Linked DNA regions of Homo sapiens: region 2 is linked to region 1. The links come from fine-mapping of genetic effects on gene expression. A gene starts in region 1. The other region holds a variant in brackets. All regions are shown on one strand. Distances are between the middles of the regions.

Evidence for each region. PIP is the estimated chance that this variant, and not a neighbour inherited with it, causes the effect. A credible set is the group of variants that fine-mapping cannot tell apart.
Region 2: its variant is the best candidate, but not a certain one, in a credible set for the expression of PSKH1 in monocytes after R848 (Quach 2016, PIP 0.59).

The regions. Positions count from the first base shown.
Region 1 is chr16:67,889,676-67,898,000 of GRCh38, forward strand. PSKH1 (protein serine kinase H1) reads left to right here and starts at 3,579. Exons shown (of 3, transcript NM_006742.3): 1 at 3,579-3,696. RefSeq lists silencers at 3,316-3,375, 3,706-3,825.
Region 2 is chr16:67,672,216-67,680,540 of GRCh38, forward strand. It overlaps GFOD2 (Gfo/Idh/MocA-like oxidoreductase domain containing 2), which reads right to left. Exons shown (of 3, transcript NM_030819.4): 3 at 2,321-3,838. The coding sequence ends at 2,940. Among named protein-coding and RNA genes, the nearest start is that of C16orf86, 9.6 kb to the left of the region's middle. RefSeq lists enhancers at 877-936, 4,851-5,807, 5,808-6,763. The variant G/A (reference allele first, on the strand shown) is at 5,055.

The sequences.
Region 1 (8,325 bases):
CTTAAGGCCCTGTCTAAATAAATAGGCCAGGCATGGTGGCTCAGGCCTATAATCCCAGTGCTTTGGGAGGTCGAGGCTGGCGGATCACCTGAGGTTGAGAGTTCGAGACCAGCCTGACCGACATGAAGAAACCCTGTCTCTACTAAAAATACAAAATTAGGCCGGGCACAATAGCTCATGCCTGTAATCCCAGCACTTTGGGAGGCTGAGGCAGGAGAATCGCTTGAACCCAGGAGGCGGAGGTTGCGGTGAGCCGAGATCGTGCAGTTGCACTCCAGCCTGGAAAACAAGAGCGAAACTCCGTCTCAAAATACATAAATAAATAAGCAAGTCAGGCATGGTGGTGCATGCCTGTAGACTCAGCTATTTGGGAGGCCGAGGTGTAGCGGGATTTTAAGGAATCAGAGAGACCAGTGGGGTTCAGGAGGATATTTATTAATTATTTAGGTGCATCGGCCCAGTCAGATTAACATCCAAAGGACTGAGCCCTGAACAAAGAGTTAAGTTACCTTTTAAGCATTTTGTGGGGTGGGGGGAGATCTGTGCAGGGGGAAGCATATTACAGAAGCAAGAAACAAAGACAGTTATTAAATTAATTGAGACATGCATTACATCATTTCTTTTTTTTTTTTTTTTTTTTGAGACAGAGTTTCACTCTTGTTGCCCAGGCTGGAGTGCAATGGCGTGATCTCAGCTCACTGCAACCTCTGCCTCCCGGGTCCCGGTTCAAGCAGTTCTCCTGCCTCAGCCTCCTGGGTAGCTGGGATTACAGGCACGCGCCACCACACCCAGCTAATTTTTGTATTTTTAGTACAGACAGGGTTTCACCATGTTGGCCAGGCTGGTCTCGAACTCCTGACCTCGTGATCCGCCCGCCTCGGCCTCCCAAAGTGCTGGGATTACAGGCGTGAGCCACTGTGCCCGGCCGCATTACATCATTTCTTACTTTTCAAGGAGAAGCATGTTTTACGACTTGAGTTTATCTGTCTAGTGACCTTGTAACTGCACAGCTAGTGAAACAGGGTCTTCACAATGCCTGGGAAAGGAGGAGAGATAAGGCTTCCTAGCCACAGAAAAACAGGCAGTTAATTTTTAAAGAACTCCAGCTCTTTCTCTTTCTCAGGGGGAATTGGGTTTTCTTACATACAACTGAGTTTCTACTTACACATTCTTTAATTTCTTTTAATTCCTGTTCCAGAGGCAGGAGGATCCCTTGAGCCTAGGAGTTCGAGGTTACAGTGAGCTTTGATTGCTGCCATGCACTCCAGCCTGGATGACAGAGCAAGACCCTGTCTCTATTAAAAAAATTAAAAAGGCCAGGTGCAGTGGCTCACGCCTGTAATCCCAGGATTTTGGGAGGCTGAGGCCAGTGGATCACCTGAGGTCAGGAATTCAAGACCAACCTGGCCAAAATTTAAAAAATAAAATGAGGCTGATGAGGCAGATGTCTTGCTTAAAGTCAAACAGCTCTGGAAGTGTCAGAGCTGGGATTTGATCCCAGGTATGTTTGGCACCAAAGTCTATACCCTTAATTATTGCACTAGACTTTTGGAAACAATTTTTTAACTTTTTTTTTTTTTTGAGATGGAGTTTTACTCTTCTCGCCCAGGCTGGAGTGCAATGGCGTGATCTCGGCTTACTGCAACCTCTGCCTCCCAGGTTCAAGCAATTCTCCTGCCTCAGCCTCCCAAGTAGCTGGGATTACAGGCGCCTGCCACCACGCCTAGCTAATTTTTGTATTTTTGGTAGCAATGGGGTTTCACCATGTTGGCCAGGCTGGTCTCCAACTCCTGACCTCAGGTGGTCTGCTCACCTGGGCCTCCCAAAGTGCTGGGATTACAGGCGCGTGAGGCACCGCGCTGGGCCACCATTGTTCTTTTTAAATGAAATCTTGTAAGAAACCTTACTACGGCTGGGCATGGTGGCTCACGCCTGTAATCCCAGCACTTTGGGAGGCCGAGGCGGGCGGATCACGAGGTCAGGAGATCGAGACCATCCTGACTAACATGGTGAAACCCCGTCTCTACTAAAAATACAAAAAATTAGCTGGGCACAGTGGTGGGCGCCAATAGTCCCAGCTACTCGGGAGGCTGAGGCAGGAGAATGGCGTGAACCCAGGAGGCGGAGCTTGCAGTGAGCCGAGACTGCGCCACTGCACTCTAGCCTGGGTGACAAAGCGAGACTCTTTCTCAAAAAAAATAAAAATAAAAATAAAAATAAAAATAAAAATAAAAATAAAGAAAATTAACCGGGCATGGTGGCAGGCGCCTGTAATCCCAGCTACTCGGGGAGGCTGAGGCAGGAGAATTGCTTGAACTTGGGAGGCAGAGGTTGCAGTGAGCCGAGATTGTGCCATTGCACTCCAGCCTGACAACAAGAGCGAAACTCCATCTCAGGAAAAAAGAAAAGAAAGAAACCTTACTACATAAAATAGACAACAATTTTTTTTTTTTTTTTGAGACGGAGTCTCACTCCATCGCCAAGGCTGGAGTGCAGTGGTGCAATCTCAGCTCATTGCAACCTCTGTCTCCCAGGTTGTAGCTATTCTCCTGTCTCAGCCTCCCGAGTAGCTGGGACTACAGGAGCCTGCCACCAAGCCTGGCTAATTTTTGTATTTTTAGTAGAGACAGGGTTTCACCTTGTTGGTCAGACTGGTCTCAAACTCCTGACTTCAGGTGATCCACCTGCCTTGGCCTCCCAAAGTGCTGGGATTACAAGTGTGAGCAGTGGCGCCCAGCCGACGACAATGTTTTATTGGTGTTAATTTATTTTTAGGTTTAAAGTATAACATTAGCTTATACAGTCAATCAAAGACAGTTCCATGTGCAAAGTACATACTCAATAAAGATTTGAATACAGAGCTACTGAAATGGGGAAGATGGATGGAGGTTACAATGCACTTACCATCTGCAGCACCTATTTTAACCCCTCCAAGTTGGGTTGACTGTAAAGTGAACCAGTTCTGATCCTATAGAGAAGTCATTGTGAATGGTAACAATTTTTTAAAAATCCGCTTGCTTTTCAGACTCGGCATATAAATTAAATTAACAACAACAAATAACCATGAGTCCAGAAGTTGGCCCAAGATTGACTTCACCTATCTACAAATTAACCCTTTGCATCTCTTCTTTGATGGAGGCCAAATTCAACACATGGAGTGTTGAAATTATTCTAAGTGCAGTTTTAAAAAATAGATTTTGTTAATGAAAATTAAGTCTATCCTTTGCGGAGTTCCAGAGGCACTTCCAGAAACCTCTGTTGGAAAGCATTGTTTACCCAAGCTCGCATTACAGAGTCCCCTTTCCCCCAACCAGAAACTTGAAACTTTCTCCCTATTTCCCGCGATCCTTCCTTTTTCTATCACCGACCCGTCTCGCAGGCAGCGGTCAAGTTACTTTGAGCGACAAATAGACCCACCCCTTCAGGAGAGTGCCCGTCCCCGCCCCGAAGAGGTTGATTGGCAGGCCACGCTCGGAGATCCGCCAGCCGCGTAGCCCAGTTTCGGGAGAGTCCGCCCCCGACCCGCCCCCGACCCGCCCCGTAGGCTTGTTTTGGCGTCAGCTGCGCGCTGTGATGACGCCACGACGCTAACGCCCGAGAATGGCGGCGGCGGCGGCGGCGGCGGCGGCCGCTGCCATTGCCCGGAGATGGCCGGCAGAGCCGCCGAGACGCCGAAGAGCCCGCCGCCCGCGCGAGGTGAGGCGGCCCGGCCCAGGACGACGGCCCGACGGGCGGGAGGGGCAGCCGAACTGTGGTCGTGGTCGCTTTCTGGCGCTCCGGGGCCTGCCCCTGGTCAGCCTGCAGCGTCGGCCCGTGCCCCGTGCGCCAGGGCCTACAGGGTTGGAGAGCAGGCCGGGCGATGGCTGCTCGGGTTCCCGGCGTCCGAGTCTGGACTGGCCTCGGAACGTGCTGTCGTGCTGGATAGCCCGTCTCCAGGCCCGCTTGGGCCTGGTGGACGTGGTCGGTTGCCCTGCCTGCTTGCTGTTCAGCCGCCCCGCGTCCAGAGCGGGTCAGGTTGATCCAACCTGGTTGTCCTTGTCCTTACTGCCTTCTCGCGCCCGGCGCCTACTCCACACCCCTCCTTTGCGTCTGCCAGGGGCCGGCGGGGCAGCTGATCGCTTCCTTGTGCAGGCTGGGAAATAGCAGGTCTGAGTCCAGCTGGGTTGCTTGCTTGGCAAGCTTGTCATTCCTCTACCTGCAAGGGGAAGCCTAGTCCCCCACACTTAGTCCCCCTCCATAAAGCGGCTGAAGTGATAATTCCCACCTGAAAATCTGAGTAAGTCCTTCACTGCCTGAAACTAGTTCCTTAGTGCCTTCAGGACAAAGGCCGCACTTCTTAGCAAGGCATTCAGGGCTCTTCGTAATCTGGTGAAGGTTTAACCAGCCAATCAACACCGGAGCACTTCTGTGCTCCCTTTACGTAGTTTATTGTTGTTAAAACGTGTGGCGCTCCTGTTAGCTCTGGTTTCATACCTTTGTGTTTTAGTATTACTAATTTTGAGACAAGGCCTCTATTGCCCAAGCTGGAGTGCAATGGCTCATTCATAGCTCACTGCAGCCTTGAACTCCTGGACTCAAATGATCCTCCCGCCTCAACCTCCCGAGTAGCTGAGACAAGAGGCACTCCCCTCCACGCCTGGCTAAGTTTAAAATTTTTTGTAGAGCCAGGGAGTCTGGCTTTGTTGCCAGAGCTGGCTTCAAGAGACCCTCCTGCCTAGGCTCCTAACATATTGAGATTATTAATACAAGCGTGAGCCACTGTGCTTGGTCCCCTTGTGCTTTAGATAACGCAGTTTTCTCAGTTTGCTATACACTGCCTTCCACCCCACCGACCACCTACCAGTGTTGGAAACTTACATCTGTCCTATAAAATCCACCTGAGATGTCACTTCCTAGGAAAAAAATCTACCTTGCTTGGCATGTAACCATTAACTCCTCTATATCCATGCTGCTACTATTGAGTACATCCTGTTGTGTCACATGGTGGTCTTCTGTCTGCATATGTCTGGCTCTGTGCCTGGCATAAAATAGGGGCTAGCCTCCAGTAGCATTTGCTGAATGCTGACTTATGAATGGATAGATTCAACTGTATTTTTGAGCACCTATCAGGGCTAGGATCTAAGATGAGCACAGCAAATGCCAGCGTATGTGTGTGGTAGGTAGTACAGCCTCTTAATCCTGGATAGTCCAAAATCTCCTGGGATAATTTTGTGATACAAAATCAAGAGCCTTACTGTCTGAGTTAGTTTTTTTTTTTTTTTTTTTTTGAGACGGAGTTTTGCTCTTTTTGCCCAGGCTGGAGCAATGGCGCGATCTTGGCTCACTGCAACCTCTACCCCCCAGGTTCAAGTGATTCTCCTGCCTCAGCCCCCAGAGTAGCTGGGGTTACAGGCAAGCACCACTATGCCCAGCTAATTTTGTATTTTTAGTAGAGATGGTGTTTCACCGTGTTGGCCAGGCTGGTCTCGAACTCCTGACCTCAGGTGATCCACCTGCCTCGGCCTCCCAAAGTGCTAGGGTTGCAGGCATAAGCCACTATGCCTGGCTGAGATTTTTTTTTTTTTGTTTAAACAGAGACGAGGTCTCGCCATGTTGCCGAGGCTGGTGTCGAACTCCTGGGCTCAAGCAGTCCTCCCACCTTGGCCTCCCGAAGTTTTAGGGTTACAGGCAAGAGCCACCACACCTGACCCACTCTTTGAGATTTTGATGAAGAAGATCTGGGGTAGGAATCTGTATTTTTTTTTTTTTTCTGAGATGGAGTCTTGCTCTGACACCCAGGCTGGAGTGCAGTGGTGCGATCTCGGCTCACTGCAACCTCCGCCTCCCAGGTTCAAGCGATTCTCCTGCCTCAGCCTCCCGAGTAGCTGGGATTACAATCACGCATCACCACGCCCAGCTAATTTTTGTATTCTTAGTAGAGACGGGATTTCATCCTGTTGGCCAGGCTGGTCTTGAACTCTTGACCTCGTGATCCACCCGTCTCAGCCTCCCAAAGTGCTGGGATTACAGGCGTGAGCCACCATGTCTGGCCAGGTATCTGTATTTTGAGAAAACTTCCCAGGTAACTTTACTGTGCTTCCTCATTGAAGATCTTTGTCATTGCCTAAGAAAACTGTTGTCTCCTTTGTCCAGTGAGAAGGCCTTGCCTTGTGGACTCCTGTTGTGGTCTCATGCCTAGAAGCATGGGCTTTGGTGTCAGAAAGACCTGGATTCAGTTTCTGGCTTTTCTGAAATCTTGAGGTTCTCTAAGTCCTAATTTCCTTATTCCAAAATAGGAATCATCGTGCCTACTACATGTGCTTGTAGAGAGGAGTGAGATGGTACATATAAGATCCTTAGCAAAGTTGGCACTCAGTTAATGGAAGCCACTTTTATTACTAATGGCTCCTCTTCCCAGAGTTTCCCTTGTCAAAAGAAGGTCTTGTCTTCTTTTTTCTTTTCTTTTTTTTTTTGAGATGATGTCTCGCTCTGTCGCCAGGCTGGAGTGCAATGGCGTGAGCTCGGCTCACTACAACCTCCGCCTCCCAGGTTCAAGCAATTCTCCTGTCTCAGCCTCCTCAGTAGCTGGGACTACAGATGCCTGCCACCACACCTGGCTAATTTTTGTATTTTTAGTAGAGACGAGGTTTCACCGTATTGCTCAGGCTGGTCTCAAACTCCTGACCTCAGGTGATCCACTCACCTCGGACTCCCAAAGTGCTGGGATTACAAGCATGAGCCACCACAACCGGCTAGAAGGTCTTGTCTTAATAAGCGTGTTTGTTCTTCAGGGTTAGTTGTGTGTAGGAAGCTGCTTTGTATTGTGTGATTTCCTCAAGGTCATTTCTGGTCATCGGGGAAAACTGACAATAGTGTGCTTCTTTTTTTTTTTTTTTTTTTTTTTTGAGACGGAGTTTTGCTCTTGTTGCCCAGGCTGGAGTGCAATGGCTCAATCTTGGCTCACCGCAACCTCTGCCTCCCGGGTTCAAGCGATTCTCCTGCCTCAGCCTCCCGCAATATGGTGCCTCTAAATCAGGGTCGATTCAGTTGGCCATACCCCTAGAAGAGATTTGGAATGCTGATTCACTAGAGGGTGGGTTTGCTGAATAAGCATATTGTCTAGGTCTAATTGTAGTTTTGTGCTTGTTAAGTTGCATAAATGAGCTAGAAAAAGTGCAGCCTTCAGGAAACCTGTTTGCATCTGACACTGAGCTCCAGTTGCACTTCACCTCAGGCATCTGGTTGGCATCTAGAACAGAATGCCCCTACAGAAGTAGGTGCTGGAGTTCTCTATCATAATCACAAGTTCATAGTTAAATGAGTGAGACTTTGGTTTGGCCTTCTGTTTTACTTTGGAAGTGTGAGTGTGTAATATGGGCAACTTAGGTCCTCTTCACAGCTTCTCAGCTGTATGATGTGAATGGGCTATAGGTGTGCCAAAGTATCGACCCTTAAGCTTCAGGATAGCTGAGAACAGCTGTCTCCACTGACTCCCGGGTGTTATACAATAGTATCATTCTATCATTCTCTCTGTGTATCTTGGCATGGGGAAAAATTTTTGAGAAAAAGTACAGCTCTGGAAGAAGGGAAGCAGTTCTGCTTGTTGAGAGCTGGAGAGAGACTTATTTATTTGAACTCCCTTTCCTTCCAGGAATCTTACTCAAGGAGCATTAAGCCGGTTTGTGTTGGCTAGGTCATCACTGAGCTAATTCTTGGTACAGCCCTCTGTTGCCATGGTGTCTGATGTGATGCTAAGGTGGAAACATGTGATGTTTTCATTTGCTGGGAGAAAGTTTTCTTTCCAAGCTGCCAGCCTTGAAATGGCCTCTCAGGGCATCCTAAGAGTCATGTATCAAGGGACTCTTGGTGTGGAGCCATCCAGGCTGTAAGTTCCTTAAGATTAGAGACTATGGCCGCCTTCTTTTTGTTTGTCGCAATCTCTGGCAGAGTTCCTGACCCACAGCAGGAATTCAGTAAATATTTCTGGGTTGAACGTTGGGATTTTGGAAGGAGAACCCCAGGTACATTGCCAGGGTCTGTATTTCTGATGATGGCGAGGTCTCACTCTGTTGCCCAGGCTGGAGTGCAGTGGCATAATCATAGCTCACTGCAACCTTGCCTTCCCGTGCTCAAGTGATTCTCCCACCTCAGCCTCCTGAGTGGCTGGGACTACAGGCACACAGCATCACACCCAGCTAATTTTGTTTTTTTGAGACGGAGTCTTGCTTTGTTGCCCAGGCTGGAGTGTAGTGGCGCCATCTTGGCTCATTGCAAGCTCTGCCTTCCGGGTTCATGCCATTCTCCTGCCTCAGCCTCCCGAGTAGCTGGGACTACAGGTGCACGCTA
Region 2 (8,325 bases), 220 kb before region 1:
GAAAAAAGAGAGAAAAAAAGGAAAAGAAAGAAAGAAGACAAGAAAAGAAAAAAGAAAAGAAAAGGAGAGGGAGAGAGGGAGGGAGGGAGGGATGGAGGGACATGCAACCTCAGCTCAACTGAGGACCAAGGCTGTGGAACCACAGGTTGGGAGGTGGCTACTTTGCTGAAGTCAGAAGTGGTGACCGGGCAGTCCTCCAGCTGACTCCTGAGAGAGAGAGGTGGTGCCTTCCAGGCAGAGGACATGCCAGGGACAAAGCCCTGCTAGTATGGAAGCTGCCACCTCTGCAGGAGGGCTCTTAGTGTGGCTGGAGAGGAGGGCATGGCCATATGGAAACCAGGTTGGTCAAGTCCGGGGGTGAGGAGGAAGGGTGTGGATAGGGAGGGATCTTGGCGTGACATTCAGGAGAGGCTGCTTGGCCAGCAGGGTGATGGGCAGAACAGGAAAGGAAGTGGCTGCCATCGTCTAGGTGAAAACAGTCCTGGATTTGGCTGGAGGTTGAAGAATAAGCGACAGGTATTTGGGAAGTTCTCTTCTGGTTGCTGTATCTGACGAGCCAAGCTAACTGCATTTTTACTGTCCTGGAAAAACTTTATTTTGACCTGAGGAAGAGCTGGTAACATCCTGAGATTTGGAAACAGGTCCTGGGAGATGCTACTGCCTTCTTCCAGGAGGGGGTGCTGCCGGACAAGTCTAGAACCAGTGTGGGTTCAGTCACCCATGGAGACCAGAACCCTGTGGGCTCCCTTGGCCACAGGCATCTGGGCACATCTGTCTTCCCCATCCCCAGTGTGGGACTGACCAGCTCTGATGCCCAGGATAACTCGATGGTAAAGACGTCTGAGGGAAGGGGCCATGCACCACTCTGGCCGTGAATCTAGGCTCTGGGGATTCCCTCAGAGGAACCGGGGTCCTCATTAAAGCAGCTCTGCATTCAGCCCACTGCAGTACCCTCCCCCCAGCACATTCTGGGAACCCGAGTGCCATTCTGGGTTGGCCACATGGCCCTTTCTTATGTGGGAGCATCTAAGTCAGGCTTGTGCTTTCCTGGTCAATTCCCACATTTCAGAGTGACCTCGACATCCTAGCAACACATGGGAGGACTGAGCTGAGCTAACTGTCCCAGGGACAAGGGGGCAGCCTCCCCTTTAACCTTCGGTGTCCTGCCTGGTGGTGGGTGCTATCTGCATTTCACCTCCTAGTTCAGGCCAGGCCGAGGCTCCTGCCACAGGGAGGGGCAATGCCGGGCCCTCAGGTCTGAAGATTCCCAAATGCTGGGAGGAAGCGTGGTTCAAGGTCAGGCTCTGTGGTTAGATGGTCCTGACCAGGCTCCTGGCTCCATCATGTACAATCTACAGGAGGCAAGTAGCTTTGCCCTCTGTGCCTCCATTTTATGATCTGAATGATGAGAATATTTACCGTCAGAGAGTGGTTTGGAGGTTAAGGGAAATAATAACATACACGTTTGCCCTGAGGGTCAGCATGCAGTAGGCACACTCCAACCCTATCCCTTGTTATTCCCTCTCACAAGGACATCTGAATCCAGGAAATTACAGGAAAACAAGCCTGGTGACGTCTAGAAGCGGTGCCAAGAGGAAGAGGAAGCCCTCCCTGGGCTTTTCTGGCAAGGAGCCCAGGGCAGGGAAGAGGGCGGAAGGTTAGAGAAGGGAACAGAACTTGGTCCAGGCTGAACGATCCTGGCAGGCTGGTCAAACAAGCAAAGGGGAACGCATGTCTTTTCTCAACACCGTGCCCCCCCGCCCCCACCCCCCGCCGCCTCTGGCAGAGCTGGGTAGAAGGCTGGCCCTGTGCAGAGCACAGTCAAGAGCATGGTGGGTGATTGGCCCTCGGGTCCAGCCACAGCTGCTCCATGGGGCACGCCTGGAGCTCTTCCTCCTCCTCCTCACCCTGTGCCACCTCCCTGAAACCACTCCTCCCCGCCACCTCAAGAGCACTCTGGCAGCCAACACCGTGACATTAAGAACAGAACCCCTCCTAACCTCCACCCCAGTGAGGCCCCAAACTCTCCCGCTATCTGCTGAGACGGCAGGCCCAGCAGCAGCCCATTAGGAAGTCCTGAGTCCTGTTCTCTGAGGAAATCTTTTCTTCTGAGGCTCCTGGGATTTGGCTATGAGGGAACAGGCAGGAGACGAGGGCTGGCAGGGGCAGCGGCCCGTGTGGCACAGTTGGCGGTGATGACCCACGCTGGCTCCGAGCTGCTGTGGAGCAATGAGTAGAGAAAAACCCCCTACCAGCCAGAAACAAGCCTTTCAGTATTAAAGAAACCCAACCTACCAAACAAAAACCACATGCCATGTCCTATTTTCTGAATTATTTATTAACATTTCTCAGATGTTCTAAAGCCCTCCCTTGCCTCCTCTCTGCCAAACCAGGGCCCTCTGTCCTACTTCAAAAGCCCAAGAGCTCACTTAATAAAGCAAGCCCCAGTCCCCACCTGGGAAGGGCCTGGTCACATGGGAGGGCAGGTGAGGGTCCCTGAGGGACAGCTTGTTGCCCTCACTGTTCCTGAGATGCCCCAGCCCAAGAACGAAACAAAACTTCTCATCATTTCTCCTCAGGCCTCAGCCGAGCTGGCCCCTCTTGTGCTTTCTCACCCTGTTAGGACTGCGGATCAGGCTGAAGGGCTCCCCAGGGTGAGCCTTTCCTGGTCCGACTCACTGGCATCACCATGAGGAGGCCTGGCGGCAGCTCTGCCCTGTGCACACCGTGGTAACCTGGCAACAGGAACATTTGCCACCCTGCAAGTCTGAGGAGCAGATGAGCCACTGGAGGGGGCGAAGTCCCAGAGCCACCTCTGGCTTCACCCAGACTCATTAAATGAAAGACACTGTCTCTGCTAGGGCCAAGTCCCTGTCATGTCTGGCTCCTGTTCCCCTCCCTGGTCCCTCTGCCCTGTGGCAAGGAGCCCAGGTGCAGGCTCATAGGTTGTTCCGCTGAAGTGCCTCACACAGGTTCTGGTTGGTGTCGGGCTCCTCCGTCAGCACCTCCACAGCCTCCCACTCCCCGGATCGGCTCGACCTCTTGATGGCATCCACCACGCTCTGCATGTACAGCCCATCCTCGAAGGAGGCGGCCATGGAGACAGGGGTGCGGTCCCAGGTGCGGCGGTCGCCCTGCCCCTGGAAGGACTGGCGCAAGGCCTGCACCATGTAGACCATGCCCTTCAGGTACAGCAGCGGGACATCCTGGGGCCCCTGCTCAGGCAGTCCTGCGCCCACTGCCAGCGAGTCCCTCAAGAGCAGCTCCTCTTGCGTGGCAGAGTTCTTCTGCCCATAGAGGTCGGCTCCCCGGGCGACGAGGCGTCCTGCAGAGCCTACCACCATGACTTCATGCACAAAGGCGCCTGGCATGTTGAAGTTGAGTGTCACTGTGCTACACACACCCCCACCCATGAGCATCTGGAAGAAACAGAAGTCATCGCTAGTGACGTGCCGGATGCCACGGATGGCAGCGTTCTGCCTCACGAATGTCTTGAGCAGCCCGTGCACCTTCTCGGCTCTCCGGCCGGTCAGGTGGGTCAGCAGGTCCACAATGTAGGTCCCCATGGTGTGCAAGCCCCCGCCGCCCATGAGCTCATCACAGATCCAGCCATAGCTGGGGCTCAGCAGGCTGCCTGAGTAGATGCGGGCATCACAGATCATCACCGCTCCCACATAGTGTTCCGAAATCAGCTGTTTCATGCGCACGAAGGCAGGCAGGAAGCGCAGCACGTTCCCTACCAGGCTCATGAGCTGCGGGTAGTAGCGCGAGGCTGTCACCATCCGGAAGGCATCCACCGATGTTGCTGCCTTCTCGCAAACCACATTCTTCCCAATACCTAACAACAGGACACAACAGGAAATCTCAAAGTTTCAAGGGGGAATCTCCAGCATGTCCGCCTGCCCTGAGGATTTTGGACTTCTCTGCCTTACAACTGCACGAACTAATTTTTTTTTCTTTTTTGTAGAGGTGGGGTCTTGCTATGCTGCCCAGGCTAGTCTCAATCTCCTGGCCTCAAGCGATCCTCCATCTTGGCCTCCTAAGTGGGACCACAGGTGTGTACCACCACGCCTGGCTAATTTAAAATTTTTTTTTTGTAGAGATGGGGTCCTCCTCTGTTGCCTAGGCAGGGCCCAAGTGATCCTCCTGCCTTGGCCTCCCAAAGTGCTGAGATTACAGGTGTGAGCCACCATGCCTGGCCCCAATTTCTTCAAATAAATCTCTGTCTTAAACACCCTATTGGTTCTGTTTCTCTGGAGAACCCTGAATAACACAGGTGGGCTAGAGAGGTGGGCACACTTCATGGACGTGTCTCTATGTTGTCATGCATTTATTAGGTCATCAGCTTGGGGCAAGGAAATCTAACCTATTTTCTAGGGGATGGACTATTCATAACTTCTACTCTTAGTCATAACTCCAGAGAGGGCCCTAAGATTCCCTGCAGATTGTTCTCTGAAAACACTGGTCCAACAAGTTAGAGTGGCCCAAGGCTAGAACATGTTTGGCTCCGGCAGGAAGGGAAGGAAGTGAGAATACCCTTTTTGCCCTCACACCCATTCTGGGTACGCTGCAGCCAACACGCACCCAGAGGTAAACAAAGCTGGACAAAGCCCTGAGGAGAGTGCTAGAGGATAAGCAGCTGGGAACTGAAGGGATGAATGCTGCTCCATGTTTCAAGATGAAAGCTTGTGAGGATATGAGCAGCCATGAGACACTAACACCTGCAGTGTTCCTGCGAGCTTTGTGTGGTTCAAGTCGAAGGAAATCCTGTGCTAATACTTTAAATAGAAAACTTAGAAAGCCCAAAAAGCAGTATGGACTAGACACATACAGAAGTTTACAAGTCATAGTAAGCCAGAAAGGGTAAAGACACCCTGGCAAAAACCCACGAAAAAGCTCTCCAATGTGCAATAGCTTCTCGGAATAAAAGCCAAAGTCCTTACAAAGGCCCCACCCATAAGGTCTTGATACATGATCTGTGCACTCCTCCAAAATTTTCTTTTTAAAAAAATATTGAGATAGAGTCTCACTCTTGCCCAGGCTGGAGTGCAGTC[G/A]CATGATCTCGGATCACTGCAACTTCCGCCTCCTGGGTTCAAGCGGTTCTCCTGCTACAGCCTCCTGAGTAGCTGGGATTACAGGTGCCCACCACCACGCCCGGCTAACTTTTGTATTTTTAGTGGAGACAGGGTTTCACCATGTTGGCCAGGCTGGTCTCCAACTCCTGACCTCAGGTGATCCACCCGCCTTGGCCTCCCAAAGTGCTGGGATTAAGGCATGAGCTGCCATGCCTGACCACTCCAAAATTATCTTTTTGACTCTTTGCCTCCTGTGGTCTCTCGGTTGCTCATCCTGCTCTAGCCACTGAATGTGAGATGGGGGCTGCTGTGCAGAAGGACTTGGGGATTGGGGAGAGGCAATGATCACGAAATGCTGAAGGACTGAGAAGGCAGGGGTGGGTTAGGAAACGAGACTGAAAGCATTACACAGAGCCTACATGCAATGTGGAAAACTGGATACCAAGTCTTGGGCTGGACTAATTCATGTGCTTACCCTTCTAGTTGAAGCCCATCTGGGCAATGTGTGCACCTGGGCTTCTCCTCCACAGCCATCCAGGCTCCACTCTGGCACTCCACAGGTACTTCCTGGTTGGAGGGGCAGCCTTAGGCCTGGATGCCTGTGACCTGGGGCAACCGGTCACAAGAATGTGCCTTCTCCAGGTATGTGCATCTTCAGTAACCATGGTGCTCATCTTCCCTCAGGCCCCCAAACATTTTCTGAATGTTTTCAGATGAGGTAATGGTTAAGACACAGATTATTTCTGATGGCTCACTGCAGGGTGCAGCTTACCCTGATGGACCAAGATGGATTCTGTTCACACAGGCTCAGGAGGGGCCAGCTTACAGCAGAAACAATAGTAACTACAGACAATAAATCTTGCAACAAAAACTAAGAAAACTTCATAGAGATGGCCAATGTCTTGGCTGGGCATGGTGGCTCACGCCTATAATCCCAGCACTTTGGGAGGCCAAGGTGGGTGGATCACCTGAGGTTGGGAGTTTGAGACCAGCCTAACTAGCAGGAAGAAACCCCGTCTCTACTAAAAATACAAAATTCGCTGGGCGTGGTGGCACATGCCTGTAATCCCAGCTACTCGGGAGGCTGAGGCAGGAAAATCACTTGAACCCGGGAGGTGGAGGTTGCGGTGAGCCAAGATTGCGCCATTGCACGCCAGCTTTGGCGACGAGAGTGAAACTCTGTCTCAAAAAAAAAAAAAAAAAAGAAAAAGAAAAAGAAATGGCCGATGTCCCACATGATGGATGGGCCCCAGGACAACTGACTACCCAGGAAGAGTCAATTACTGGTGCTGGACTCAAGCTTTGGAGCCAGAAATTCCTGTGCTCAAATCTTGGCTCTCTCACTTCACTGCTAGATGATCTGGGAAGTTTCTAAACTTCCCTGGGTTTTTGTTTACTACTATAACTGTAAAGCAGGATTTTACAGTTACAGGGGAAGAAAGGAGGACTAAGGCAACCAAAGCAGTATATGTAAAGTACCTGGCTCAGTACAGCTCTGTCAACAGTACATTTTATTACCATCGCCAAGGGAGGGATTCAGCCAATGTCGTAAATACAGAGAAAAAAAGCCCATTGTGACTTGGATTTTAAGACTTGGCTGGGCGTGGTGGCTCACGCTTATAATCCCAGCACTTTGGGAGGCCAAGGTGGGAGGATCACTTGAGTTCAGGAGTTCAAAATCAGCCTGGGCAACATAGCAAGACCTAGTATTTATTAAAAATAAAAAATAAGCCAGGCGTGGTGGCGTGTACCTGTAGCCCCAGCTACTTGGGAGACTGAGGTAGGACGATCCCTTGAGTCCAGGAGATTGGGGCTGCAGTTTGCTGCGATCAAGCCACTGCGCTCCAGCATGGGTGACAGAATGAGACTTTGTCTCAAATAAATAAATAAATAAAAGACTCACATAGAAACTACATTTTCCAGGTAAATAATTTCTTTTTTTTTTCTTTTTTTTTTTTTGAGACAGAGTTTTGCTCTTGTCGCCCAGGCTGGAGTGCAATGGTACGATCTCAGCTCACTGCAACCTCTGCCTCCTGGGTTCAAGTGACTTTCCTGCCTCAGCCTCCTGAGCTAGCTGGGATTACAGGAGCCTGCCACCATGCCCAGCTAAGTTTTTTGTATTTTTAGTAGAGATGGGGTTTCACTATGTTGGCCAGGCTGGTCTTGAACTCCTGACCTCAGGTGGTCCACCCACTTTGGCCTCCCGAAGTGCTGGGGCGTGAGCCACCGCGTCGGCCCCAGGTAAATAATTTCTATGTTCTGTACTTTGAAAATCTGATTTAGTTTCTTCTTCCTTTTTTTAAGAGACGGGGTCTTGGCCGGGCGCAGTGGCTCAGGCCTGTAATCCCAGCACTTTGGGAGGCCGAGGCGGGTGGATCACGAGGTCAGGGGTTCGAGACCACCCTGACCAACATGATGAAACCCTATCTCTACTAAAAATACAAGAATTAGCTGGGCGGGGTGGCAGGCGCCTGTAATCCCAGCTACTCAGGAGGCTGAGGCAGGAGAATTGCTTGAACCCCGGAGGCGGAGGTTGCAGTGAGCTGAGATAGTGCCATTGCCCTCCAGCCTGGGCGACAGAGCGAGACTTCGTCTCAAAAAAAAAAAAACAACAACAACAACAAAAAAAAACAGGGTCTTGCTTTGTCACTTAGCTGGAGTGCAGTAGCGGGATTCTGGTTCACTGCAGTCTTGGTCTGAGCTCAAACAGAGCCTTCCTCCCAGCTTTCCAAGTAGCAAGGACCATAGATGAGTGACAGCACGCCCAGCTGATTTTTAAACTTTTTGTAAATACAGGGTCTTGCTACATTGCCCAGGCTGGTCTCAAACTCCTGGCCTCAGGTGATCCTCCTGCCTTGGCCTCCCAAAGTGCCAGGATAACAGTCATGAGCCACCATGCCCAACCCATGTTGATTTTATAATGTCTTTTTAGAAAATCTAATTTTCAGGCTGGGTGAGGTGGCTCACAGGTGTGGCAGTGCACAGCTGTAGTCCCAGATACACAAGAGGCTAGGGTGGAAGAATCACTTGAGTCCAGGAGTTAGAGGCTGCGGTGAGCTATGATCAAGCCACTGTACTCCAGCGTGGATGACACAGCAAGACTCTGTCTCAAAAAATAAATAAAATCAAAACGAATACAGAGGAGTTGTTTTATCATACGTACTGTTTATTAGGCCTCTCCGAGAGTCAGGCCCAGCCTGGCCCCCTGGTAGCTCACATACTGACCAAGCCCACAGGAGACAAATTGGTG